4 linked regions of the Homo sapiens genome follow. The protein of the gene in region 1 interacts with the protein of each later gene in a biochemical or structural test. Each region holds a gene or a part of one and is shown on either strand. Other genes may lie near its edges. The genes, in order: NET1, DLG1, DLG4 and MAGI1.

Evidence for each region.
Region 2: the proteins of NET1 (region 1) and DLG1 form a complex in vitro, tested with the Homo sapiens proteins (3 studies listed by BioGRID and IntAct, with this or other methods).
Region 3: the proteins of NET1 (region 1) and DLG4 interact in a biophysical measurement, tested with the Homo sapiens proteins (2 studies listed by IntAct, with this or other methods).
Region 4: the proteins of NET1 (region 1) and MAGI1 form a complex in vitro, tested with the Homo sapiens proteins (3 studies listed by BioGRID and IntAct, with this or other methods).

Annotation. Positions count from the first base shown.
Region 1 is NC_000010.11:5,408,441-5,415,580, forward strand, and holds the start of NET1 (neuroepithelial cell-transforming gene 1 protein), read left to right. Parts: upstream 1-4,116; 5' UTR 4,117-4,252; coding exon 4,253-4,380; intron 4,381-7,140. UniProt on the Homo sapiens protein: Acts as a guanine nucleotide exchange factor (GEF) for RhoA GTPase. May be involved in activation of the SAPK/JNK pathway Stimulates genotoxic stress-induced RHOB activity in breast cancer cells leading to their cell death.
Region 2 is NC_000003.12:197,134,598-197,141,623, reverse strand, and holds part of DLG1 (disks large homolog 1), read left to right. Parts: intron 1-1,359; coding exon 1,360-1,484; intron 1,485-3,232; coding exon 3,233-3,402; intron 3,403-4,945; coding exon 4,946-5,082; intron 5,083-7,026. UniProt on the Homo sapiens protein: Essential multidomain scaffolding protein required for normal development. Recruits channels, receptors and signaling molecules to discrete plasma membrane domains in polarized cells.
Region 3 is NC_000017.11:7,200,608-7,207,633, reverse strand, and holds part of DLG4 (disks large homolog 4), read left to right. Parts: intron 1-362; exon of another isoform or gene 363-679; coding exon of another isoform or gene 680-703; intron 704-2,446; exon of another isoform or gene 2,447-2,688; intron 2,689-3,381; coding exon 3,382-3,435; intron 3,436-3,566; coding exon 3,567-3,626; intron 3,627-3,817; coding exon 3,818-3,942; intron 3,943-4,040; coding exon 4,041-4,210; intron 4,211-4,304; coding exon 4,305-4,441; intron 4,442-4,586; coding exon 4,587-4,731; intron 4,732-7,026. UniProt on the Homo sapiens protein: Postsynaptic scaffolding protein that plays a critical role in synaptogenesis and synaptic plasticity by providing a platform for the postsynaptic clustering of crucial synaptic proteins.
Region 4 is NC_000003.12:65,377,902-65,384,927, forward strand, and holds part of MAGI1 (membrane-associated guanylate kinase, WW and PDZ domain-containing protein 1), read right to left. Parts: intron 5,723-7,026; coding exon 5,631-5,722; intron 4,169-5,630; coding exon 3,976-4,168; intron 3,226-3,975; exon of another isoform or gene 3,148-3,225; intron 1,654-3,147; coding exon 1,360-1,653; intron 1-1,359. UniProt on the Homo sapiens protein: Plays a role in coupling actin fibers to cell junctions in endothelial cells, via its interaction with AMOTL2 and CDH5. May regulate acid-induced ASIC3 currents by modulating its expression at the cell surface.

The sequences.
Region 1 (7,140 bases):
AAGGGATGACAAACCTGATTTCAAATATTCTGCCCTATTGTGCCTATAAGTACACTTCTGCTTGTCAGAATGACAATCAATGCAGTCCACATACTTAGCTGTTGGACTACACTCCCTTTCATTTGGCAGGAACAATTAAGTTTGACCCAATTAAAAATTACAGTCTAATAAACAGTTTTGTAAATTAATCAATAGTAGATATAGTAAATATATTTTTAAAAATTTCAGACTTTATTATAACATTCTATATATAAATTATATGTATATGCACACATACAGACATTCATTCTCCTGAATGTAATTGCTGTTAGTTCATGAGAAGCTATGAGAAGATTCAGACAAAAAAGAAAAACGTTGATGCAAAGGGCAATTCTCTAGTTATTAAGACTACTAGTTTTCTAATGGTAGGTCATTGTTTGCAAATTTGCTACATTTTTCTATGGGAGCCTACAGACCAAAGGGGAATCATTTAGCTAGTGATAGCAATGGCAAACAAAATATCACATCAAAATCATCAAATAATTTGGAAATTAATAAAGTGTTTTGATGAACACTTTGTACTCTAATATATACATATATATATATATATATATATAAAACTTGGTAAGCAGTTTTGCAAAAATAGTTTGATTTACTTAGATAATGAAAGAAAATAGGTTTTTAAATTATTGATTTACATAATAATTTACATTCATTTATTGATTGTTGAATTTATTTAATATCAACTTGCAAAATGATTGGTGTCATCACATAGGGCTGAAGGTTTTGGAAATAATCTTTGAGGAAGTTCCCCAAAAGAATATTTGTTTTGCAAATCCATGGTTGAAAAAGTTTGGGTTACACTTTGCTCTAGTCAAGTTAGTAGGAATATCTTCTCAGAGAGGGAGTTCTAGAGTCTGATTTTATATATATGAAAGCTGAAATCAAAACAATTTCCTCAAACCCTATCCCGGTGAATATTTTAAGGGAGAAGGATGATTTGTGGGGAACTGAAAGAGAGAGGATTCAGAGAACATTTGTCATGGTTTTGGGACTGTTCTATACAGTGTAAGACATAGAACATGGGGACAATGGCATTCAGACACCAGAAAGTTGATCTCTTGTAAGATCAAGAGATGTCACCAGCCTTTCCCAGGTCTTCAATGACCAACCCTCAGAGCGGTCACTTTTCTTTGCTCTTCTTCTATGGTACCCAGCCATTTTCTGATGAAAATTTGTCTTCTATTCCTTATTTCCCTAATGTCTAGCACAGATCCTGGCATATTATAGCAGGAATTTAATAAATTCTTGTGAATAATTGAACAAAATCATAAGTTCTCAAGTGAATGAAAATTGGAAACAGTTGCTCTGCATAAAACAATAGTATTCAGGTCACTGGAAAGAAGTGCCCACCCCCACCACTGGAATCCCCACATTGACATCCTGCAGTATCTATCATTTTGTGAGTAGTTATTACAAGTTACCAAAGGACTGACCACCTCTGATGACACAATCAAAACCAGTTTCAGGACCTGCAAAGCTGAGGACAGACCCTGAATTCTGAGGATCTCACCGAAGTATGTTGAAACTATTAATATGAAACGGCTGTTTCTGTGGGTAAAAAGACCAAGCGTCAGCGATTCACATGGTCCTATCTTGTGAACAAAAGTTCTCTGAAAAGGAAGTTTGGAGAAAGGAGACTTTATTCTAGTGAACAGTTTGCAAACCAGGGAGACACAGCCTTCGGAGTAAAAGAAAGGTGATTCCAGAGAATAAAGGGGAGGGTTTGGCTTCTATAGAAAAAGTTCTTGTCCAGGTTTCCAATCAGATGTGTTTATGCAAAGGAAAGATTCAGACTTGCTCAGTTCAGATTGGGTAATACAGCTGAACCCTGATTGGATAAAGCAGATGAGTTCTGATCGGTTACATCAGGTGAGCCCTGATTGGTCAATTCGGGTAAATTGTGAAAATCCCAAAGGGGTGTGAGTTTTCTGGACACAGAGTAGTTGTGACCTACTTGGGACCTGACTTGAAGAATTGCTCTTACAGGTTTATTTTTGTTCATAATCTAAACATCTGCATCCTCTGAAGCTCTGTCTTGGTGGAGACCAACTCCCCAAATATTAAGAACATTTCTGTATTCTTACACTCTAACTGCTACAAAGCAGTACTTTCTTCTTTAATTTTTGGGGAGGGATGGGGAAGGTAGAACAGAAGTGGTTCTTGACCAAGGTCAACTTATGTTCAGAGCTGGTTCCTTCCGGTGGGTTCATGGTCTCGCTGACTTCAAGAATGAAGCCATGGACCTTCATGGTGAGTGTTACAGCTCTTAAAGGTGGCACAGACCTAAAGAGTGAGCAGCAGCAAGATTTATTGTAAAGAGTGAAAGAACTAAAGCTTCCACAGTGTGGAAGGGGACCCCAGTGGGTTGCCCTGCTGGCTGGGGTGGCCAGGTTTTATTCCCTTATATGTGCCCTCCCATGTTCCATTTTTGTCCTATCAGAGTGCCCTTTTTTCAATCCTCCCTGTGATTGGCTACTTTTAGGGTCCTGCTGATTGGTGCTTTTTACAGAGCACTGATTGGTGCATTTTACAATCCTCTTGCTAGCTACAGAGCACTGATTGGTGTGTTTTACAATCCTCTTGCCAGACAGAAAAGTTCTCCAAGTCCCCACTCTACCCAGGAAGTCTAGCTGGCTTCACATCTCAATGTTACTCCCTAATTTCTTACTCTTTTTAAAACAAAAACATTTTTCCCTCATGTTATAAAGGTACTGCAAATTCAATATGTCCTTATTTTTAAAAAAATTAAATGCAAAAAATAAAAATAAAAATTTTGAATACCTAAAGTCTACCTAGAGACATTTTAATACATTGACTTTTTAATACATTTAATACATTTTAATACATTATCTTTTTTCTTTGTATAATCTCTTGTAATTCATAACTTTGAATATACTGAATATACCTCTATACTTCATGTTTTTATTTCAAATTACCAGTATACTATTACATACTTCACACTTCATTTTTGTTGGCTGAAAATATTCTTCTCAGTGGATGAGCTATAAATCATTGTTTATTTAGGTTGTTTTAAATGTTTCTATTATAAACAATGTCATTAATAGCTTCATGTTTATATAATTTTATTTTTTAGGATAAATTTCCATAAGTGGAAATATACTGGCAAAAGAGAAGTGTTTTTTTGTTTTTTTTTTTTTGGAGACGGAGTCTCGCTCTGTCACTGGGCTGGAGTGCAGTGGCACGGTCTTGGCTCAATTCAAGCTCCGACTCTCTGGTTCAACTAATTCTCCTGCCTCAGCCTCCTGAGTAGCTGGGATTACAGGCATGCGCCACTCTGCCCAGCTAAGTTTTGTATTTTAGTAGCGACAGGGTTTCACCATGTTGGCCAGGATGGTCTTGATCTCCTGATCTCGTGATCCGCCTGCCTCAGCCTCCCAAAGTGCTGGGATTACAGGCGTGAGCCACAGCGCCCGGTCAGGAGAAGCTATTTTTAAAGACTTTGACACATATAAAGCAATATTTAAAATCAAAGAAAGTGTAATTTGTTTAACAATTTTTTTTTTACTTGAAGCGGTCTTTTATTTTATATTATGTCTTTTGCTGACTTTTACAAGCAAAGGATGAAGTCACTTCATTCTGTTTTGCTAGGGAGAGACTGTGTCATGCTTATTGGAAGACATAAGGGCTCATAATTAGATTTTGCTGGTTCCCTAGAGACAGTCCCGGGAACACACTTGCATAACCTTTGGTAATTGGAAATATATCTCATATTGGCCACGTGCACAATAATTCAGTGTGAATATGGCCAATAAACATGCCTTGTTTACAGGTCATTAGTTTGGACCTCTCTTCTCCTCAAATGCTAAGAAAGATCTGGTGAATTAAAATGCTTCCAGTCCATTTGCCTTGGCCTGTAGTGAAAGTCCTAATGAACAATGAAGGAGGTACCGGGCCTTAGGGACTCAGGGATGCGCTCAGGAGTTAAGGGCAAATTTTCCTAGGTTCTTTCCTAGGCAAGTAGATCCCGGGAGCGGTGGAGGGGCGGGACTCCACGTCTCCTAGGAACCGCTGCGCGCTCACTGATTGGCTGATCGCTGCTCAGCCGCCATTTTCAAATCCCCGGATGACGGCGGTGGCGGCTGCAGTCCGCTGACAGGCGCTTTCTGCCTGGCAGAGGCTGGCGGGCATCGTGCCCGTCCCTGCCGGTCTCCCGGGCACCCGGCCACCGCCCCACCCCCTCCTCCGTGCCATGGAGCCCGAGCTGGCGGCTCAGAAGCAGCCTCGACCGCGGAGGCGAAGCCGCCGGGCCTCTGGGCTCAGCACGGAGGGAGCGACGGGGCCTTCGGCCGACACCTCCGGGTCGGAGCTGGACGGGAGGTGAGTGTGGGGGAGGGGAGGGCCGAACGGGAGGTGAGTGTAGGGGAGCGGAGGGCCGAACGGGAGGTGAGTGTTGGAGAGGCAAGGGCCGGGGGGAGGGGAGGGCTGGCCGGGAGTTGGATGTGGGGGGCGGCGAGTGGGGGTGTTGGTGAGGGCCAGGGGGAGGCGAGGGCCGCTGGGAGGTGAGTGGGGGGTGGGGGAGGTGACCGCGGGGTTGGGGGGGGGGACGGGGGCCGCTGGAAGTGAGGGTGGCACAGGCTGGAGTGACAGTGTGCCTGGCCTTGGACCGAGGTCGGTCCTGAGACCCCAAACTGCGATTTTCCCTGCCTGTGGCAAAGGGGCGGGTTTATTGAGTCTCCTCGCCTCCTGACTGTTTCTCAGGGGAGACTTAGGAAAAACCACAATGGTTTTGTTCTGCACACCCAACTGGCTGTAGGCTGGCGTTCCCAAATGCCTTTGCTCAGACCGAAACTGTCATGGTGAGCACCACGAGAATGGGCTTCCATGTCCTGAGAAAGAAAAGACTAAGGGATAAGTTGACTTCGGGATATGTTATGAGATGCCTATTAGAGAGTTCATCACAACCATTTTCGTGTTTTTTCTTTTTACTTTTTGTGGAAGTATACATTGAAATGAGAGTGTATGACTCGTGTTTGGCTCAGTGAAATTTCACAAAGCGAAGCTCAGGGGATAGCTAGTGAATTAGGAGGAAGGGAACCAAGTGAGAACAGTATCCAGGAGGCCAAATGAAGAAAGAATTTCAAGAAGAGGACGTGGCGAGCTATGTCAGATGTTATTGATAGGTCAAATAAAATGAGGATTAAGTAAAATAAGATGAGGATTAAGCTAGATGAGGAATGAAAATTAAATTTGGTAATGAGAAGAGAGTATTGATCTTAGATGGTTTCCAAGAATGGTTACAATATCGAACTTAGAGTGTTTTGCAACAGGTTGAGAAGAGAATGTGCGATTTGTTCAGAAAATAATGTGAGTGCCAACACTAGGAATATGGAAATGGAAAAATACTCTTGTTACTATTTAAGATTTATAATCTAGTGGGGAAGAAAGATAAGTAGGTTAATAATTATTATAATATGTGATAAAAGTTATTATAGTGATATACACAGAATGCCGTAGATTAAAAGGAACACTTAATCCTGACTGGAGAGAATAGGAAATGATTTCCTATTGTAATCCCTGAGTCTTTAAGGACCAGTTTAGAGAGCAGATGTAAATGGATGATTTCAGGCAGAGAAGCATGTAGAAAGGCCCTGAAGCAAATGAGTCTGATGAGTTCTGGGTATATATTCTATTTTATTACTATATTAACAGTGATATTTGTATAGAGGAGAGGAAACCAATATGGGGAGAAGGAGGAGGTAGTCATGAGAGATGATGCTAAAGAGGTAAGCGCCACATCATGAAGAGACCTTGTATGCCTTGACAGAGTTTGGGTTTTATCTTCATGGTAATGGGGAAATACTGAAAGACTTTAAATGAGCCAATGGCATGACATATTTGCATTTTAAAAGATCAGTTTGCCTTCCATGAGAAAAATAAGCAACATTTTGGAGTCATCTCACTCTTCATATTTTATGAAAACTATTCCCCAAAAATGTGCACATATACATAAACATTTCAGGAGATTTGTGGACCCAGCTGTGTATACCAAATTAAAATTTCCAAGTTTAGCTGATGGATTGGTAGGAAATCAGTCTGCAGTAGTCTAAATGAAAAAATGATTGTTCGAATCTGATAGCTGGCAATGGGATTGGTGAAGAGAAGTTTCACTGCAACAGGAAGACAAGAAAGAATAGAGAGAAATAACACAATTTTGTGGGATAGACTCTTAAGAAAGAATAAATTCCCTTGATGTGCTGTGCTGAGTTAACAAATAGAGGGAGAGGTTGAACAGACAGTAGAGGAGAAAAATGGTTGAACAAGGATCCAAGAAGGCAGAAAAGGACAGAATCCAAATTCAAGGTAGAGGATTTAGCCTAACAAGAAGCTATGGATGATATATAGTTTTGAAGAATGGGGTGTGTTGTGAGCAGGAATTTGAGGACTTTCCCACCAGGCCTCTATTTTTTGTGTGAGGTAGGAAATGATACATTGTGAGAAAAGCGTAGTAACACAGGCAGCATGAGGAGAGTGAGACACAGTTAGAAGAACCATGGAGAGAAAATGGAGAATTAAATAACATATTCCTTTTCCAGAAAAGATGTAAGATCATCTACAAGAATACGTAAAATATTACAAGATAGTATTAATTGTGAGGCAAGAAGCAACTAAGCACTGTATCAGATTCAGAAATCATAAGGAAAAAGATTTGTGTGTATGATTATGTGACTATTGAAAAACGTTCTGCAGGCAAAACTCAGTATAAACTAATTTGAAAGACAAATACGTACAGTACAATTTACCCACTTAAATTGTACTACTTAGAACATTTTCATCACCTCAAAAAGAGCATTTGTACCCTTTAGCTATTGTTCCTCTCCTACCCCTTCTGCCCTAAAACCTAATCTGTCGGTCTGTAGGAATTTCTCTGTTCTGGACATTGCATATGAATGGATTTATGTAATGTGTGTGGCCATTTTTGGTGGGCCATCCTTTGCTCTTTTTTTTTTTTCTTTTGAGACGGAGTCTCAGTCTGTCACCGGGGCTGGAGTACAGTGGCATGATCTCGGCTCACTGCAACCTCCGCCTCCCGGGTTCAAGTGATTCTCCTGCCTCAGCCTACCAAGTAGCTGGAACTAC
Region 2 (7,026 bases), on another chromosome or scaffold:
GTAACTAAATGTGTGTATACTCAAGACTGAAATCCTAGATAATTAGATTTATTTATATTGGAATAGAATCTGAGAAAAATAAATCTGAGAGAGTCTCTTACATGTATATCTTTATTGCCATCTACTTAAATTCGGATCACTTGCTCAAGTTGGGTGGCTACTGGAGTAATATTCAAGTAAGCACAGTATTAATGTACTGTACATACTTTAATATAGTAGTTTGTGATGTCTCCTAACTTTTTATATTATTGATTTTTTATCTTTTCCCAGGGCCTTTTAAATTCCTTTTGTTTAGTTAGGACTATACATTGTATTTTTCACTGGTTGAAGAACTTGAGTACCTAAGTAATTTGGTAACCTCCCATAATCCACTGGTACTGTTCTTAAGATTCAGGTAATTCATGAAGTTAGATTGAAAAACATTTTTTTATTAAAATAGAATTTTAAGACAAATGGTGGTAGAGTGGGTGTTTACACTGTTTAATACTAACAGTTAAATGATAGGTCCACATATATTTGCTTACTTGAGTTGCCTGAAATTCAGTTAGAACATTCTTCAAGAAATAAACATTTTTTAATACCATTGGTTAAATCAATTATTTTTAAAGGCTTTTTGTAGCAGTCGAACCCTTTCTGTGAAGAACATATTCAGAAATCTTGTTTCTCCAGTTCATAAAACAAGCAAAAAGTAGAGCTGCTTTGGCAAAATTTACTTTGCTGTCAAGAAAATTCACCAATGTTAAGTTCTCAGGTTGGTCTTTCAGTCAGTGTGAAACAATGCCTTTTGCTAATCGGGTATATTGGTTAAACATGTCAGGGACTGATGGCAGCTATCACTTAGCAGCCACAATTTGGTCATTTAAAAATAAGCTGATGTCAAGTTAGCAGAAGAAAAGCACCATCGCCACCCCCTTTTTTAAAGGCTAAAACAGTATATGGGTTTTGCCTACTCAGAAATAACAGCGGGAAGATCACTTCAGCATTTGTCTCTTAGGAGAGATGTGCCCTACCAAACATGGCTGAGGTGCAGTCTAAAAGAAACAGACTTACAGTGACACCTCTGCAGATGGGTGACTAATCCAACGACAAGTTGCACATACTTTTAAAGAAAGAACTGTGGAGTATACTTCAAAAGTCCTTGGTGTATTTTCTTGAACCTCACCTGTTCAGCAGTAATGCCTCTGAAAGGACTTTCCTCCAGAACAAGTCCATTTAATTTAGAATCTTTATATTACTCACCCATATACCTTTATTTGTTGTGTTCCTTATGTTAGTACAGTTTCTGCGTCCTTTAATGACAGGAACCTGTCCATAAAGATAAATCATATTCAGTCTCAATTTTTTTTCTTCTATCCTCAGGGAAATTCAGGGCTTGGTTTCAGCATTGCAGGAGGTACGGACAACCCACACATTGGAGATGACTCAAGTATTTTCATTACCAAAATTATCACAGGGGGAGCAGCCGCCCAAGATGGAAGATTGCGGTATGTTTTGCGCTTTTTATTGTGATGCTGAATCCACTTTGTGTATTTTTCTTGAAGCAGACTGGATAAGGGATAAATACAAATAACAAACACGATCATGATAACTAGCATAGGGTAGATGCTTTAACAACATTCAAGTCAATGAATGAGATAATTATGCTCTAAGCATTGTGTTCCTGTTTTCATTTAGACTCCAGTTTTATCTTAGATATTATAACATTTTGAATAACAAATTTGGTTGATGGTTTAAATCTTTGTGAGCATATTTATAGAAATCATGAGTTTCCCTTTGTGTTTTCAGATACACTCACAGAATATTTTCCATTTCCTCTCTGGCTGGGAAACATGTGTATAAACTTATTTAAGTACACTCACAGAATATTTTCCATTTCCTCTCTGGCTGGGAAACATGTATATAAACTTATTTAAGATACGGAGGATAGAGGATCACACATCCATGTTGAATCCCACACCACAAAGACTATATGCAAACTTTAAATAATATATTTTCTTATTGACTAGATGAAAATAACATTTGTCTCTGTTTAAATTTAGTGTTCCATTTTGGAAGATATATTTTGCAAACTTTGATTTTTTGAGGGTCATAAATTATGTCATTTTTCCTATTTCCTTGTTTGTTGTTCAAATACCCTGAAGTTTTAGGACTAAAGAGTTTATGTAGTCTGTTAAAAACAGCATCTTATTTTAAGGACGTTGATGCCTTACGCAGTTTTTGAATTTCTAAGCTTTATAATTCTCACTGGGTATGACAGGTGGTATATTAATGAAATCAAATAGATATAAAAATTAATCATTTGACCATTCATGTAAATGTAGACATTTACTTCCTGATTCTGTTAGATATAGAAGCTTGTCAGGACCAGTTTTAATATTTTAATTATGTTTTGTTTACCCTCTCTACCCAATTTGAGATGACCATCTTTTTTTCCTGGTGGAATACCATGCAATCAAAGAGACCAGAACTAGGGAAAAGGCTAAGACTAGGAACAAATCAGACTTTTAAAAAACATAACACCATGGCAAATTATAAGTTCTTTACCTACGAAACCTTTGAATTAAGTGACCTAATCTTTATATAAATTTCAAAAAATAACTTAATTGTTTTATGTCTAATATATAGGTTGGAATAGGCACTCAGAAAATTATTTTTACTTTATCTCAGTTTTCACACTATCTCTGTGACCTTAAACTCGTGATGTGAGCCTCAGTTTTCTTATCTTTGAATCACAGCTCTGTCACTTATTATCTGGGTGGCCTTAGGAAAGTTATTTACATTCTTTGTGCCTCAGTTTCTCCATCTGTGAAATAGGGATTAAAATATATATTAAGCTTACAGGTGTCATGAGGGTTAAAATACCAAGAAAGTGCCTGGCATGTGGTTAGTGCTAAATAAATGTTTGCTATTTTTATAAAGTGTGTCTTAATGCCTACACAGAATAAGCATGCAGGAAGTATGCAAATGGTAGCTGTAATTATTATTTAACATTTTTATATAATCTATTATTTTCACTATTTCTTTTGTTCCTTTTGCTGGCCCTTGGGAAATGTTTGTATTTGTTTATATTAGTTTTTGATATACTTTCTTCATTTATGTTTTCTGGAATTACTCCAGAATTATTTATAATTCTCTTTACCTTAAAAAAGAAGTAACAAAAAATTGGTAAAGTGGAAAATTTATATTTAAATTATATTTAATTTTTATTTTTAATATTTAATTGTTTTCTCAGGGTCAATGACTGTATATTACGAGTAAATGAAGTAGATGTTCGTGATGTAACACATAGCAAAGCAGTTGAAGCGTTGAAAGAAGCAGGGTCTATTGTACGCTTGTATGTAAAAAGAAGGAAACCAGTGTCAGAAAAAATAATGGAAATAAAGCTCATTAAAGGTCCTAAAGGTATGTGGTAAGTCAAACTAAGATAAATCTTTAAGAAATCTCTGAGTTAAATATACCTATGAACTTTATCTGTGACATACATTCCAAGTACAGTATTAGTAATATTCTACAGAACTTGAGTGGATTTTAATTTCTCCGTTATTTCTACTGATTTTTGTCTTACGTAGCATTTTAGAATATTTACATTTCTACCAAGATTGCAGCATTTGAAAAGTTCCTTTTTTTGCGGGGTTTTTTTGTTTGTTTTTTTGAGGCAGGGTTTTGCCCTGTCACCCTGGCTGGAGTCCAGTGGTGCAGTCATGGCTTACTGCAGCCTCAGCCTCCTGAGCTCAAGCGATCCTCCCACCTCACCCTCCCAAGTAGCTTGGACTGCATGCACACACCACCACACTGGGCTGATTTTTTTTATTTTTTGTAGAGACGGAGGCCTCCCTGCATTGCCTAGGCTGGTCTCAAACTCCTGGGCTCAAGCAGTTCTCCCACCTCAGCCCCGCAGAGTGCTGGTATTACAAGTGTGAGCCACTGCACCTGGCCCAAAATTCTTACGTTTATTGATGTATGCTTTTATACATTTTACTGCAGTGAGCATATATATAAATTTATAAGTTTTTTATGATTTTTATATTCAATATTTGCTCAGCATGTTTTTAAGAGTTTTTAAAAGTAGGGAACAAAATATCTATTTGTTTTATAAGTGGATATGTCCCTATTTGTATTAAGTATTCTTATATTGAAGACTTCTAGCATTAAAAGAGTGAAATATTTGTGTCCTTGAACACTTTGAAGTTTAGTATTGCTATTAACTTGTGATAATCTACAAAATACTTTAAATGCAGGTACACAGGCTAAGTTAAAAGAAGAAGTGTTTATAATATGTATTATGAGCAGTTACATCTGCAGTAAAGGACTGTTAAGATGTGATTGCTGAATTTTTAAAACATTGATGGCTTGAGGATAAATGGAAATAGTAGTTTCAATATGTGGCTTCATGGAAGAGGGAGGATGTCAACAAATGAAAAAGGAATGGAGAGCTGAGAAATTATCTGATATTGAAGCTATGGGATTTAGGAATTACAGAAATTCCTTACTTAAAATTGTTAATTCATAGAATATTGAAGAAGAACAAAGGTATTCACATTTTTAAAGCCTGTTGGTTCTGCCCACCATCACCAGACAATGTTGTTATTTCTTCTCAATAATTTTGTTCTTGTGAAAATATTAAAAGTGTAGGTAAGCATAATTATGATGGAAACAAAAGTAAAACATAATTTCGCAATGTCACTTTGGAATAACAAGTGCATTTGCGAAAAGATACTAAGAAGGAACATGTGGGATAAAAGGAATCTATTCGTAACTCTAGGAGCAGCTGTATGTCTAAGTGTCCCTTGATTGCAGAACATATACTAGTAGATAACTAAATAGATTCTTTTCTATTTTAAAAAATATTAGTGTGAGGGAATAATTACCTTGTAGTTTTCAACCATTTCTTTCTGGGCTTAAGTTCATATTTATGGATGAGAATCTAGAACTGTTTTCCAAACAGGTCTTGGGTTTAGCATTGCTGGAGGTGTTGGAAATCAGCATATTCCTGGGGATAATAGCATCTATGTAACCAAAATAATTGAAGGAGGTGCAGCACATAAGGATGGCAAACTTCAGATTGGAGATAAACTTTTAGCAGTAAGTATAAGAAATCTATTGTCTTTTAAATCATTTTGTAGTCTGTTTATTTTTCTGATAGATACTGGAATTTCTCCATACCAAAAAGGTCTAAATGATGTTTAAATTAGCAAATACTAGCCTTGCTGTATCAAATCCTAAAAAATGATTCTTGGTAATTCTTTATTTGTCATTTCTCTTTTCTCTGCTAGCTCCTCCTCCCTTTTCCTTTTATTCCTTTGTTGTTGTTGAGGGCTTGTATGCACAGAGTGTTTCATCATAATCCTTAGGTTTATAAAACAATGTCATCATTTGTTTATGCATGACCCTTTTTTATTTTACTTCACTTAATAGTATAATGAAACCTAGTAATTACCCAGCCCAAGAATTAGAACATCAACCATTTTGTGTTTCTTATTCCTTTGCTTCTTAAAAATTGTTTAATCAGGCCGGGTGTGGTGGCTCACACCTGTCTGTAATCTTAGCACTTTGGGAGGCTGAGGTAGGTAGATTGCTTGAGCCCAGGAGTTTAAGACCAGCCTGGGCAGCATGGCAAAACCCTGTCTCTACAAAAAATACAGAAATTAACCAGACCTGGTGATATACACCTATAGTCCCAGCTCCTTGGGAGGCTGAGGTGAGAAGATCACCTGAGCCCAGGAGGTTGAGGTTACAGTGAGCTGTGATTGTCCCACTGCACTGCAGTCTGGGTGACAGAGTGAAAGCCCATCTCAAAAAAAAAAAAAGTTTAATTATATACATATGCCTAAATAATTTTGTTTAGTATTATTTGTTTTGAAGCTTTTTCAAAACACTATTGCACTGTATGAGACTTTCATCTCCAGTATTTTTTTCACTCAATATTGCTTTACTGAGACTTACCCATATCATTGCTTAGAGCTAAAGTTCATTCATTTTATCTCTACATACTATTCCACTGTATGTCTGTACTGCAATTTATTTGTCCAGTCTTCATCAGTGTATTAGTTTGTTTTCACACTGCTATGAAGAATTACCCGAGACTGGGTAATTTATAAAGGAAAGCGGTTTAATTGACTCACCAGACTCAGGAAACTTACAGTCATGGTGGAGGGTGGGGGAAAGCAAACACGCCCTTCTTCACATGCCAGCAGGAGAGAGACGTGCCAGCAGTGGAAATGCCAGATGCTTATAAAACAATCACATCTCATGAGACTCACTCACTATCAAGAGAACATCATGGGGAGCCACCTCCGTGATCTAATCACCTCCTACAAGGTCCCTCCCCCAACACATGGGGATTACAATTCAGGATGACATTTGGGTGGGGACACAGAGCCATACCATATCAATCAATAACTGTCTCAGTCCATGTTCCTTAGGGAAACGGAATCTGAAGAAAAGCTAAAGTGCTAAGGTATTATTTGGCTGTGTGATCTCAAGAAGGCTAGAGTGAGTAAAAATGAGGAGTGAAGCAGAGAATGAACGAGAGCCAATAGAAGGTAGAATGTGTCTGAGCTGGCTGTAATTTTATAAGGTAGCTTGTTGCTTGTCATGTATAACAGTCTTCTAGGCAGACACTGTAAAAACCATCCGGGCATCATAAACCTTACATCCAGCCATCCAGAGAAAAGAAAGAAAGGTTTATCTGCTGGCCCTTTTATTCTCCTGTCTCTTGTCTACCCCCTAGGGGTTATTTGTCCCAAGCTTTTGGATTGTGTTACCCAACTCCCCTGGGCGCAGTTTCTAGGGAAGCCAGCTCCTATACTCCATGGCACAACACTTCACCCAAGCCCAAAAATGGTAGAGTTGCAGTGGTATGACAGGTCAAACATAGGTTTGTGACATGTTATGGCCCTCACTGTGTGGAACACATCAGCCATGCCCAGTCCCAGCCAGAAGAGGCTCAGAAAACTGGGAAGGGCAGGAGACAAGATGAAAGTAGTATAATAGTCAGGACTCTCCACTGAGCAAGCAGCCAAGGCC
Region 3 (7,026 bases), on another chromosome or scaffold:
CCTTCACACCCCCAACCTCCATTTCCATTTTCTGTGTCCAGAGCTCTGTTCCAAGCGCCTGCTGCCCTCATTTGCTCTTGTCCCTTCCCCGCCTCCTCCCCCTACCTCCGCCTCTGGGCCTGGCTCGCCCTGTCCCCAAGTCTCCAGCTCTTTCCATCTGTCTGGCCTGAGACTTCACATGGTGGGGCCTTGCTGCCTCGTCCCCTGCCCCAGCTTTGCTCCACTCCTGAGTTCTCTTCCCCCTCTGCAGCCTTTCCTCCCTGCTGGCTGGCTGGCTGGCTGGCTCTTGATGCTGTCTCTCTCTTCCTCCCACGCATTCTCCTCTCCCTCTCCCTGATCCCCAGCCCAGGCCGCTGGGGCCTGATCAGTCCTTTCCCTCATCAGTCCTCTCCCTCCATCAGCCAGCTCCCCTTTCCCATGTTCCCTCTTGCCTATTCATCTTCACCTTCCCTCTTTTCCTCCTCCCCTCTCTCATCCTCTTGGGTTCTCACCTCTGCCATATCTTCTTTCTATCCCCCTCTGCCCCCTCCATCATCCCCCACCACCTGTTTCCCTTTCTCCTCTCTGCTCACAGCGTCCTCCTCTCTCCAGTCCCGGGAGGCCTGGTTTCTGGGACCTTCCATTCTCCAGTCCACTTTCCATCTTCCCCTTCCTCCATCTCCTCTTCTGGGGACACAGGATGGGGAGGACTGGAGAGCACCAGGCAAGCTGTGAGATTGAGGGGACACTGTGGGGTCAGGGTGGGGATTCTAGGATGTTGTGGGATGCTCTGGGAAGGGGGAGGTTGCTGACATTTCACCAAGAAGATGGGGAGGAGGTCTCTGAGCCTAGGGAGCGGGCAAGCAGGTTCTGGAGTTAGAACTGGCAAGAGAGGAGTTGGGGGATAGGAAGGGTAAGAGGTCCTGGGTCAGGGGCCAGATAGGGATAAGACTGTGAGATCAGGGCAGTGAATGAGGCTGACAGAGCAAGGAAAGGAAGGCCCTGGAGACAGGGATGGTACAGAGTGTTTGTGCGAATTCTGTGGATGCTAGGAGTGAGGGAAAGAAGACTAGAGATGCTTTGTGCAAGGCAGGGCCATTAAATCCCTGAGCAGGGGGAAGAGGAGGTAGGGAGCCTGAGGGGTGGTAGTTAGTACAGAGCTGCTGCTGATCAGAGCTCAGGAGCAGAAGGGGGTGGAGGGAGAGAGTGTTGGAGGCCATAAGCATGGGGTGGAGGTCTCAGGACAAGGCCTCACCTGGGGAACAGGAGAAGCCCCAATTTTCAGAAGAGAGGGGAGTTGATTGAGAAGTGTAAGATTGTTACTTGAGAATAATCTTGAGGGTATGAAGGTAGGGTAAGGGAGAATGGTGATAAACTCTCTGGGGAATCAGAAATTGAGATGGAGTAGCTGGGTGGGGTGGCATGTGCCTGTAGCTACTCAGGAGGCTGAGGTGGGAGGACTGCTTGAGCCCAGGAGTTCAAGGCCGCAGTGAGCTATGATCACACCACTGCACTCCAGCCTGGGTGACACAGCGAGACCTTGTCTCTGGAAAAAAAGAAATTGGGATGGAGGATGAGGCCACATTGGTAAGGGATGGGGCTGGAGGGTGCGACAGGGCCAGGGAAGCGGATGGAGAATGGAGGCTGGGGTTGGAAGATGGATGTTGAAGGGCGAGACAGGGATGGAGATGGAGCATGTGGGATGCGGGCAGAGATAGGGATGGGAAGCAAATGAATGTCGTAGTGGATGAAGGTGGGTGTGCTGGGAAGGAGGTTCCAGGATAGGGATGGGGATGGGGATTGAGGATGGGCTATGGGATGGAGGACGGGCTATGGGATGGAGGACGGGCTGCGGGATGGGGGACGGGCTGCGGGATGGGGGACGGGCTGCGGGATGGGGGACGGGCTGCGGGATGGGGGACGGGCTGTGGGATGGGGGACGGGCTGTGGGATGGGGGATGAACACGTGGATGAGATTTTGGCAGTCAGTGACTGTTGGTTGGACAACAGCATTTGCTGATATGTGAAGGGTTGGAGGGTGGTGTTAATAGATTTATGGGTGTGAAATCTGTGATACAGCTTGAAAATGGTCGGTAGTTTGTAGGCTTGAGAAATAGCAGTAGGAGAGGGGAGGGACCCCTTTGGACGGGGAGAGCGGGAAGGAGACTGGGGAATCCTTGCGCTTGGGCGACTGCAAATACATGTTTCTTTAAGGAGGAAGTAGGTTGGGGACCCCGGAAGGAGGCTCTTGGCGGCCTCCCCCCATTGCCATAGAGACGTGGCTTCGGTTGCCCTGGCAATTGGGGAAGCCCCTAGGACCGGGCTAAAGCGGGCCCCGCCTGGGAGTCTAGAGACCAGGCGATTGACGTCAGGGACCTGGGCACGCCCCACTTTAACCCTTTCCCGAATGAAGTGGGGGGAGGGAGTAGATGAGCGGGATAGGACCCGGATGTCTTTCACCACTCCCAGTTCCTGACGTCCTTTGCACTGCGTAGGGTGAGGGGCGTAGGGGAGCGAGGAAGGCAGGTTATTCAGGATGCGCTGCGCCCACAAACCTCTTCAGCCCGGCCTCCTCTCGGCCTGGCTAACGTGGGGCGGGGCCCAGGGCAGGAGAGGCGGGGCTAGCGGATCCCTTCTGCGCTCAGGAGTTTGGTCGGCCCCAGGCCACGCCCCACCCCCCTGTTGTCCTGACGACAGGGCCTCCTGGAGGTGGGTCTCCCCGGGTCTTGACTGGTCCTAGATACCGTTGCTAGGCAACACGGTCCTTAGAGGAAGGGGTGGATTGGACGGCTGGTTGGTGAGACCGAGGGAGGGGCCTGCAGCTGGGGAACCCCGGATTCCCGGGGTGCAGGGTTTAGGGCAAATGTCTGTGAAAGTGAGGGGCAAGTCTAGGGGAGGGTTATGAAAATATCTGGGTAGATATGGGGGGTTGGGGGGATGGGGCAGGAAATGGGGACCAGGACCCGGTGGACATGATCCCTGGGGTGTCCATGTGTAGCACATAAGGCATGTAACACCCTGTGGTGTTACATCCGGTGAGAAGCTCCCTTCCCCCAAGCCTACCCCCCTCTCCCCACTCTTTGCCATCTGCTGCTCCCCTCTCCGTCTGGCTGTCTCCCTTCCCGCTTCTCCTACACCTCCTTCCACATGCAGGGGGCCCCGGGCTGGGCAGAGTTAGATCCTTGCGCGTGTGCATCTGTGCGTGTGTGTGCGCGTGCGCATGTGCACGCGTGTGCGTGTGTGTGATGTGGATTGAGGCTGGGCCCTTGAGCAGCTCTCAGGGTGGCGGAGTGGGCTTGGCTAAGAGGCTGAAAGGGTAGCCACGCTGATGGGACCCTCCGTTATGGGCTCCCTCTCGAGTCAAGGCTCAGGCTGCTTTTTGTCTCTTGTTTTCCCAAACAGGCCAATTCTCCCCCAGTGATTGTCAACACAGATACCCTAGAAGCCCCAGGATATGTGAGTTGTTTAGATTTTGGGGCTGGGGCCATTGCAGAAGGAAGGAGGGAGTAAGGGAGGGCAGCAGATGACGGGCAGGTGGTCAGACAGGAATGTCTGTCTCACTGCTTTTGTGTTTCTGTCCCGTGCTGGAGTTGCAGGTGAACGGGACCGAGGGGGAGATGGAATACGAGGAAATCACATTGGAAAGGGTGAGCAGGCTCCTCCATCGGCAGTCCCCGTGGCCTCCCGTCTGTACCTTTCTTTCTGCCATGTGGTCTGGGTGGCTAGCCCCTCACCCTGTGCCTTCCTCCTCTGGCTGCTCCAAGCCATTTCCCACCCCACTTGCCTTGCCAGACTTGGGCAGTGAGGGGAGCTGACCCTCTTCCCCTCCTTCACCCAGGGTAACTCAGGTCTGGGCTTCAGCATCGCAGGTGGCACTGACAACCCACACATCGGTGACGACCCATCCATTTTCATCACCAAGATCATTCCTGGTGGGGCTGCGGCCCAGGATGGCCGCCTCAGGTGGGGAGAGGAGACAGGGGTTAGGTTGCTTGGTCCCTGGAGAGGGAGGGCCAGGGCAGCAGGAAGCTCTTGGCTCAGGCCCACCTTGCTGCTCCCAGGGTCAACGACAGCATCCTGTTTGTAAATGAAGTGGACGTGCGCGAGGTGACCCACTCAGCGGCGGTGGAAGCCCTCAAAGAGGCAGGCTCCATCGTTCGCCTCTATGTCATGCGCCGGAAGCCCCCGGCTGAGAAGGTCATGGAGATCAAGCTCATCAAGGGGCCTAAAGGTAGTAACTCATTTTGTTCCCACCCCCATCCCAACTGTCCTGTGCCCCCAAGCCTGCTTCCTGGGCACCCACCTCTGGCCTCCCCTCCATCCAGGTCTTGGCTTCAGCATCGCAGGGGGCGTAGGGAACCAGCACATCCCAGGAGATAATAGCATCTATGTAACAAAGATCATCGAAGGGGGTGCTGCCCACAAGGATGGGAGGTTGCAGATTGGAGACAAGATCCTGGCGGTGAGGACTCCATCTAGCCCATTTTCTAGCCCAGATTTGGGTCTCACCTACTAGCCCTGGCAGGCCCAAGTTCATCACTTCACCCCAGTGCTTCTGTCTTGGGCCATTTGTGGCTTTGTCTGAGCTTTGCTTTCCTTGACTCCAGGTCAACAGTGTGGGGCTAGAGGACGTCATGCATGAAGATGCTGTGGCAGCCCTGAAGAACACGTATGATGTTGTCTACCTAAAGGTGGCCAAGCCCAGCAATGCCTACCTGAGTGACAGCTATGCTCCCCCAGACATCACAACCTGTGAGAGCCCTTCAAACACCAAAGTTCCCCATGACCCATCCCGTTTAACCCATGACATGCAGTCCCACGACATCCCTGTAGCTGTCCCTCTTCAGATATTCCCTATGAAATAGCCACAACCTCTGATCCTTGCTGTTGTTGGAGAAGAGATGGAAAATCAATTACCATAAAAGAACTAGAAAAGATCGTCAACGATCTCTCTCCTGGAAGGCACAAAGCCTGGTTGGTTTTATGGCTAATTTTGTGAAATTCTCAAGGAATAGATAATTCTTCTGCTCTTCCAGAGTACAGGAAAAGATAAAAGATTTCACATTTCATTTTATAAGGCCAGTTCGAATGGTCACAAGGATAGTGTAAAATAAGGAGAGTATAGACCCGTTTTGCTTCTGAATAGAGATACAAGAGTTTACAATAATATAGTAGCAAAGCAAACATGGCAGCATGTTAAGGGAATAACATAGGGTTTGTTTCAGAAAACTAAAGATGGCTCAATATTAGGAAATCTCTTAATATGATTCATATATTAAAACGTTACGGGAGGCTAAGTGTGGTGGCTCATGCTTGTAATCCCAGCACTTGGGAGGCCAAAGTGGGAGGATTTGAGACCAGCTAGGGATTTGAGACCAGCCTAGGCAACAAAGCGAGATCCTGTCTCTAAAAAAATTAAAAAAATTAGCACGTGCCTATACTCCTTGCTACTTGGGAGGCTGAGGCTGGAGGATCGCTTGAGCCGAGGAGTTGGAAGCTGCAGTAAGCCAATGATTGCGCCACTGCCCACCAGACTGGGTGACAGAGCGAGAGGAGAAAACGATGTGATTATCTTAAATAGACGTGAAAAAGGCATTTGGTGAAATTCACCATCTCTTTTGGATGAAAGCTTTTAGTAAACTAGGAACACAGAAATTTTCCTTAAGATGGTGAAGACTAGTTATCAGGAACCAGTAACAAACATTTTATAATGATACAATTTTAGCAGTGTGTCCATTAACTTATTTTTTAATTTAATTTTAATTTTTTTCTTGAAATGGAGTTTCGCTCTTCTTGCCCAGGCTGGAGTGCAGTGGTGTGATCTCAGCTGACTGCAACCTCTGCCTCCCAGGTTCAAGTGATTCTGCTGCCCCGGCCTCCCGAGTAGCTGGGATTACAGGTGCCCACCATCACGCCTGGCTAATTTTTGTAGTTTTAGTGGAGACAGGGTTTCACCATGTTGGCCAGGCTGGTCTCGAATGCCTGACCTCAGGTGATCTGCCCTCCTCGGCCTCCCAAAGTGCTGAGATTACAGGCGTGAGCCACCGCGCCCGGCCTCCGTTAACTTACAAAGAGGGCAGGGATGCCTCTTCCCACTGCTATTATTCTTCATTGCTTTAGAGCAGGGTTTCTCAGTGTTACTCCTGACATTTTTGGACCCAATAACTCTTCATTGTGGGGGGTTGTTCTGTGCCTTGTGGGATATTAAGCAGCATCCCTGGCCTCTGTCTATCAGATGACAATGGTACTCCTCCCCCTCAGTCATAACAATTAAAAAATGTTATGACAGAATTGCCCCAGCGAAATTATGGTGGTTGAGAATCACTGCTTTAGAGATTTCAGACAGTGTAACAAGACAAGGAGAATAGTTACATTTGGAAGGGAAAAACAAAAGTTATCTCTATTTGTAAATTATACTACTGTGCATCTAGATCAAAATCTAAGTGAATTAACTGGAAAAATATGCAAAGTTAAGAATGTGGCTATTTGTTGGCTGGGCGAGGTGGCTCATGCCTGTAATCCCAACACTTTGGGAGGCCAAGGCGGGCGGATCACCTGAGGTCAGGAGTTTGAGAACAGCCTGGCCAACATGGAGAAACGCTGTCTCTACTAAAAATACAAAAAAAAATTAGCTGGGTGTGGTGGCGAGCGCCTGTAATACCAGCTAATCCTGAGGCTGAGACAGGAGAATTCCTTGACCCTGGGAGGCGGAGCTTGCAGTGAGCCAAGATCTCACCACTGCACTCCAGCCTGGGCGATAGAGCGAGACTCCATCTCAAAAAAAAAAAAAAAAAAAAACCAAAACAGGCTGGGCGCGCCGGTGGCTCATGCCTGTAATCCCAGCACTTTGGGAGGCCGAGATGGGTGAGTCACCTGAGGTTGGGAGTTCGAGACCAGCCTAACCAACATGGAGAAACCCCATCTCTACTAAAAATACAAAATTAGCCGGGCATGGTGGTGCATGCCTGCAATCCCAGCTACTCAGGAGGCTGAGGCAGGAGAATTGCTTGAACCTGGGAGGCGGAGGTTGCGGCGAGCTGAGATCGC
Region 4 (7,026 bases), on another chromosome or scaffold:
ATTAAATGGAGGCCAAGTGAGCTCTACTGGATGAGAATGCTAAAGGGTTGTAGCACCTTGCTGATTCTAGCCAGTTTCCATGTGGATAAGTCATTCAGGGATAGAGCTGAGGTACATGAAAAGCCCACACAGCCTGCACAGCCCTTCCCCTTCTCCCATTGTATTCCATAGTAAGTAACAAATGTGCTTGGGAGATAACAAATGACTTTTTACCCAATCAGGAAGGTGGATCATTTTTGGAGTGTACATCTATAATCAATCCATTGCAATGGGAAGCAGATTCATATATCACTAGTTTCTGCAATCATCTGGGTTTCTATTGGTCTTTGCTAGTGTACCCAGAAGAGAGTGAATCCTTCTGAGAAAGTGACAACTGTGTTTCTCCATACTTTGCTGAAACCCTCAATGTCTGGACGAGACAGGAAAATCGAATGACTCTTAACTCAGATTTTAACCAGACTTTAAATCAAGCAACAGTAAAAATATTATTTAAAATTAAAAAAAATTCCTATGGGGATAGAGTAGAGAAAGAACACAGATGAGGCAGACTAGCATCTCATGTAGTATTTTTACTCCTTACACCTCTGTTTTTCCTAGAGCATTTTTACAGCCGTATGCTCCTTGTAAAAACTCTTAAGACATTCTTAAGACCATTCTGAGGCCCTTGCAATTAGTGCTATCCTATTCAAGACCTTTCGAAAGCCTTGCTTTGGCAAAAACTGTAGACTCTGTATGCTGTCCAGGGGTTCCTATTCAAATTTCTTTTCTTTCCTTTCCTTTTCTTTTTTTTTTTTTTTTAAGACAGAGTCTCGCTGTGTCACCCAGGCTGGAATGCAGTGGCACAATCTCGGCTCACTGCAACCTCCACCTCCCAGGTTCAAGCGATTCTCTTGCCTCAGCTTCCCAGGTAGCTGGGATTACAGGCATGCACTACCACGCCCAGCTACTTTTTGTACTTTTAGTAGAGACAGGGTTTCACCACGTTGGCCAGGTTGGTCTCAAACTCCTGACCTCAAGTGATTCACCCTCCTCGGCCTCCCAAAGTGCTGGGATTACAGGCGTGAGCAACAGCGCCCGGCTGCTATTCAAATTTCACGCAAATCTGATGTATGCTTTAAGTTGTGTATGCGTGATCACATTCTCAGTGTGGAAGTTGAAAGGGTTGAACAAATATTCCCAACCTTCAAAAGGGAAAAAGCTACCAAATCAACTCCATCTCCAATTAAGTCTTTAATTACCCAGAGCAAGAAGCTATAAAGCATTTCTGCACGTGAGGTCTGAGTCAGCTTTCACTCGCAAGAGAACAAAAACTCCCAGGCATGGTGGGAAACCCTGGGTAATTTCACGTTCAGCACTCACCAAAGGTCGTGCCTGCTTCGGGCCTGCTCACCGAGGACACGATGACGAAGCCGAAGCCCTCGTTCTCCCCGCGCCGGATCTCCACGTCGTAGGGCTGCACCACGGTGCTGACCACGCCGCTGCCCCCGCCGCCGCCACTGCCGATGCCGCTGGTGCTGCCGCTGCCCGAGCTCACCGTGTTCAGCGAGTTCTGGCTGCCCTGCGGAGTGCGCTTCTCTTCTGTCAGCGAGGCCGGCTGGTTGCTACTGTGATGAGAGGAGGCTGGCGAGGGCACCTCGTTCTCGGTTTTGGGCACTGTAGCAGAGAGATGCACGCGTACATCACCGTGTCCTGCAGCCCCTCCATCCTGCTGCCCCTCCCTCCTTCCAGCAACTCCTGCTAGAAATCAAAACGTGAACCGAGGGGAGGAGACAGCACCTGGTTTCACAATACCTGGATATACGGATTGAAAGCAGCTTCTCTTGACAAATATTAACCATTCAGTATCTACGAACATTGATCCCACCTAACACCAAATGGGACTCCCAAATAGCGTTTGTTGTTTATAGCATGCTATATGTCGACATCCACACTCAGAATCAAGTCTGCAGCAAGATCGGCCTGCTGTGAAATATTTCCCCATTGCACAAAGGGAAGGGCCTAAGCGTAGGTGAGGGCTACACCCGTGAAGACCGCCATCTTGGCTTCATAGATACAACCTTGGATGCACGTTCACATTGTCATTACTTTCCAGTCACATTTCCACCCAGCTTTTTCCATCAGGCGACAAACAGTAAGGTGATGGTAACGTTGAGGCTACCCGCCCTATGTGGGGTTCATGACAACACCTGTGAGACATACACATGCTTCTCTTCTTAGCTTCCAGGTGTCAACATCGACTCTGATCACAGAACTGGATACACTGGCCTCCTTCTGAATTTAGTCACCGTTCTAGTGTTACCATCAGACTGCAAGGTAAAGCACTCCTAAATAGCCAACACCGTAGGTGGAACCAACTATGCCAAAAAACAAAATGTGTGTTGTGTCCAAGTTTTGGATCAGACTGTATTTATTTCCAAAAGCTTCTCTTTTCATAGATTGTTTTAATTTTGGAAAAATAAGCATAACAAATTTTTAAACCATTTTTAAGCATACAGTTGAGTGGTATTAAGTGCATTCACATTTTTGTGCAACCATCATCATCATCCATCTCCAGAATTTTGTCATTTTCCCAAATTGAAACTCTGTACTCATTAAAAACTAATTCCCCTTCCTATTTCCTCCACCCCCCACCAACCATCATTCTGCTTTCTATCTCTATAAATTTGACTACCCTAGGTATCTCATATAAAGGGAATCAATATTTCTCCTTTTGTGACTAGTTCACTTGCATAATGTCTCTTCATAGATTTGACACGCCTTTTACACAGAGCTAAAAATCCAAAATATTTAAGATTTAAAAAAATAAACCTGAAACAACAAAAAAAATCACATTGCCTTACTATTTCTATTTGGGCCAGGGAAGCGAGATAGTTAGTTTTCATCTCATCTCAAAAACTCGTTCCAGCTGACTGCTTTTAGCTACATGGAATAGTATGTTAAGAAGGATTGTGAGGTCACAAACACACTGGAATTTAACATCTTAATTCTATAATTAATCATATACCATTTAAAATGGGTTATACTCTTTTTTTTTAAAAGAAGTTACCAATTAATTTTATCTGACAGGTATCTGTTTCACTAATATGAATGCCAAGAGAATTCATAATATTTCAGGTCATATTTCTCCAGTAATTCCACTGATAGAAGACAATCACCTCTGCTGCACTCTGGGTTCTGCCTTAAAGGTTTCAAGGTGGGAGCTGCATCCAAAGGTGAACAACCAAGGTGTGTTCAACGTGAGCTTTCAAGGGAAAGGACAAACACTCACACAATTCACTGTCTCAAAATGGCAGATTCTGATACAGCAGTAAACCATGAGTCACTAGAATGGCAAGGAGGGAATGCTAAAATCTGAAGGCAGTTGGAGGAAGGAGGAATTTCCAAGGGAAGAAAGTTATATTTGAGCTGAGCCTGAAAGGATATGTAGTATTTTGAGAATTAAAGTTCAAAGCTTATGGGCAGGAAGAAGGAATCAAAGCTGACCTAGAACTGGCCAGCTCTACAACTTTCTTGTAGAAAGAAAAAAAAAAAATCTTGGTTTAATACATAGGACAGTAAGAAATCAGTAACTTTTTTATGAGCTTATTTTGTAGCACAAACCCGATTTTTGTTCCCTTGATATGAAGCTACAACTCTTCTGACTTTCATAATGACCTCATTTGCTGAGGATTAGCATCAAATGAAGAGGATGGCTAAGTTCTGATTTGCAAGGAGATAGAAGGGAAGTAATATATATTCAACTAGCCTTCCTCTGGAAGCCTTTGTTGAACACATGCAAACGGCACATTAAAGTACTTTAGAATGACAGTAATTTTTGCAGGGTTTGAGAGAAGCAAGCCATCTGGAAATTCTGAGCTTGATCACATTTGCAAACATTTGCTAAAATAGACGCTCAAGGAGGCAGACACAGGAAGGAGGCCTTTTCTGTGAATAAAGTGACAACGCACTGTCTGAAGGAATGAATGAAATACATACCCGCAAAAACCACTTTACGCCGCACCGTGAGATTGACGTGGCCTTGCTTGGCAGCTTGTTGCATAAGCTGGACCACAAGCTGGTGTGATTTTCCAATTACTGGCGTCCCATCCACACAGATTAATTCATCTCCAGACCTCAGGCGGCCGTCAGTATCAGCAGCACCCAGTGGTACGATGTGACCAATATAAATCTGTTGAGTAATTGAACGATGGATGAAACATTGCTCTCCTATGTTTACTGTTACATCAATAGCCTTCACATCTCTGGGAACAATTCATTCATTCATGTCTGCAGGCATGCCGCAAACATTTATTGAGCACCCACTGTGTACAAGACATTGTGCTAAGCACTGCAACAATTCTTAAATGGTGGAAAGAGTATTTCTTGCTTAGTTTCCAGATGTTTATCTGTGGCCTATTGATGACTCACTCTCTTTTTCCCCTTTGCAGATATAAATTACTTTTCTCCCTTCATTATATACCCTATTCTTCTTTGGTAGCTACCTAAAAACTCTCTTTCCATAAAACTCTGCTAATTAAAATATTAATATTACTTTTATTTAAGGGTCTAGCATCATGCCTAGGAATAGGGAATCTGTAATAAATACTCTTAAATGAATGAATGAAGCAAAAGTTGGTTGGACATCTCCATTTTTGAAGTCTTTTAGCACCCGAAAGCAGAGCACTCTTTATAGTTAGTGTCTTGCTGTTATATTTGCCATTCACTAAACCTTAGCTAAAATATTTGTGCCTGCCTTGCCTTTCCAGCAGACAATAATGCTATAGCTACCTTTACGTGGCATTTATAGTTTACAAAGAACTTTGACAAAATAGTTGCTAAGAACATGAACTCGAGTCAGACCTTATTTGTCAGTCCCTCCATTTGGTAGCTCTGCGATCTTGGGCAAGTTAGTTAGCCTTTCTTTTCCTTGATGTGAAAACGGGATAAACTGGTGGGTTTGACGGATAAATGAGAGAATGTATGTTAAGAGCCTTTAGCACAGAACCTGGCACATAGTAAGCGCTCGATGAATAATGGCTGTTATTACCACAAGGAAATTAACGATACCTATTTCAGTTTTCTTTTCTTCCTTCAAAGGAACCCTGTTATGTTATTCTAAATTTATTCCAAAATGGAGGACACTGAGGCCCAGGGAAGTTCAATGTTTCTTGACCCTTACTCAGGGTTCTTTCTCAAGTTTTGTAAAGGCAGGGGTCTGACATTCTCCAATCACTGTCTCATAAGGCTTTGCGAAGTACTCTCTGCACACCAGCAACTCAACATACAAAGCCTACTACCTGCTGGCAGAGTGAAGGGACCTGGCCAGAAGGACCAGGCCACTGTGATATTAGGTGATGCCTATTCCTGTTTTGCTTTCTGTTTTCATCTCCCTTGGGGGAAAAGGGGTGGTCTACAGAGGCAGCTCCCACCTTTCACAAACACTCATACAAACTTTTTAGAAAGAATCTAGTCTCTTCTTCCTCAAGACAAAGAGAGCTCCACAAAACCCAATGAGAAACCCACACTACTCAAGATTAAAGAGTCAGTGTTGCATCTAGCTGGACTTAAATCTTGGTGATTTGTCACTGTCGCCAATTTGCTTTGAAGCCTTAGAAAAATATGCTGGGAAGAGAGACAAGCAAAAGACTCACAGGTTCCCCTGGTTCATTTCCACCCAGAATCCTAAATCCAAATCCAGTCTCTTTTCTCCAGAGGAAGATGTCCTGTTCCTGGTAATCTGGAACTGCAGAGAGGGGAGAAAAAAGAGAAGGATTATTTTACTGATAAAAGCAATGATACCCCCAAGATGAACACAGTTGCAGGACAAGAATGGTGGTGCTTGATCAGATGGAAGATTTTCAATATAGGCAAAGAAACAAAATACTCTGAACAGGTGAAATAATGGAAGACACGGGGATAAACAGTGGGAATAGTCACTGAGCCCTAAAGTTCTTCACAGGACCCATCACTGTTTGATAATTCCGAATCAAGCCCAAGCCATGATCCTTAACTACAAATAGTCAGCATTAACTGCTTTCCTCAGTATTCTTGCAAGGAGAATTAAGTAAATTAAAATTATTATGTGCCACACCACAAAGCAGGTGTCCATGTCCAAGAACACTCAGGCTAAGTCAGAGTCACCTCTGAAGCCAGATCTAAGGATTCGGAAGTCATGTTAAGTCACCAGATGTTTCCTCTACTAGAGGATGAAAGAGAACAGCTTGGTTTAAACAGACTTTCTGATTTATCTTTAAGTCACTTTCTTCTTCCTTAAAATAATTAAGGCTAGCAATGCTAATAGGCTTTGTTAGATCATTTTTGCCAAAAATTACTCTAAAACATCCTAGTATTTCTGCATACAGTCAGTCCTCCATATCTGTGGGTTCTGCATCCTTAGATTCAACCAATCACAGATAGAAAATTTGTTAGACCTACAATGGTTTTAGCTGTGATGAATACGTACAGATTTTTTTCTTCTCGTTATTCCCTAAGTAATACAGTATCACAACTATTTACATGGCATTTGCATTGTATTAGATGTCATAAGTAATGTAGAGATGATTTAAAGTATATAGGAGGTGGGGTGCAGTGGCTCACAGTGGCACTCCCAGCACTTTGGGAGGCCAAGGCAGGCGAATCGCTTGAGCCCAGGCATTCAAGTCTGGGCAACATAGTGAGACCTTGTCTCTACAAAAAATAAAAAATGAGCCAGGTATGGTGGTGTGTGCCTGTACTCCTAGCTATTCGGGAGCTGAGGTGGGAGAATCACTTGAGCCAGGGAGGTTGAGACTGCAGTGAGCCATGATTGCCCCAGTGCACTCCAGCCTGGGTGACAGAGTAAGACCCTGTCTCAAATAAATAAACAAACAACAAACAAACAAATAAATAATATAGGAAGGGGTGTGTGTGTGTGTGTGTGTGTGTGTGTTACACACAAATATTAGGCTATTTTCTAGGGATTTAAGCATCCATGGATTTTTATATCCTTGGTGGGGGATGCGGGTGTCCTGAAACCAATCCCCAGCAGACACTGAGGGGTGACTGTAC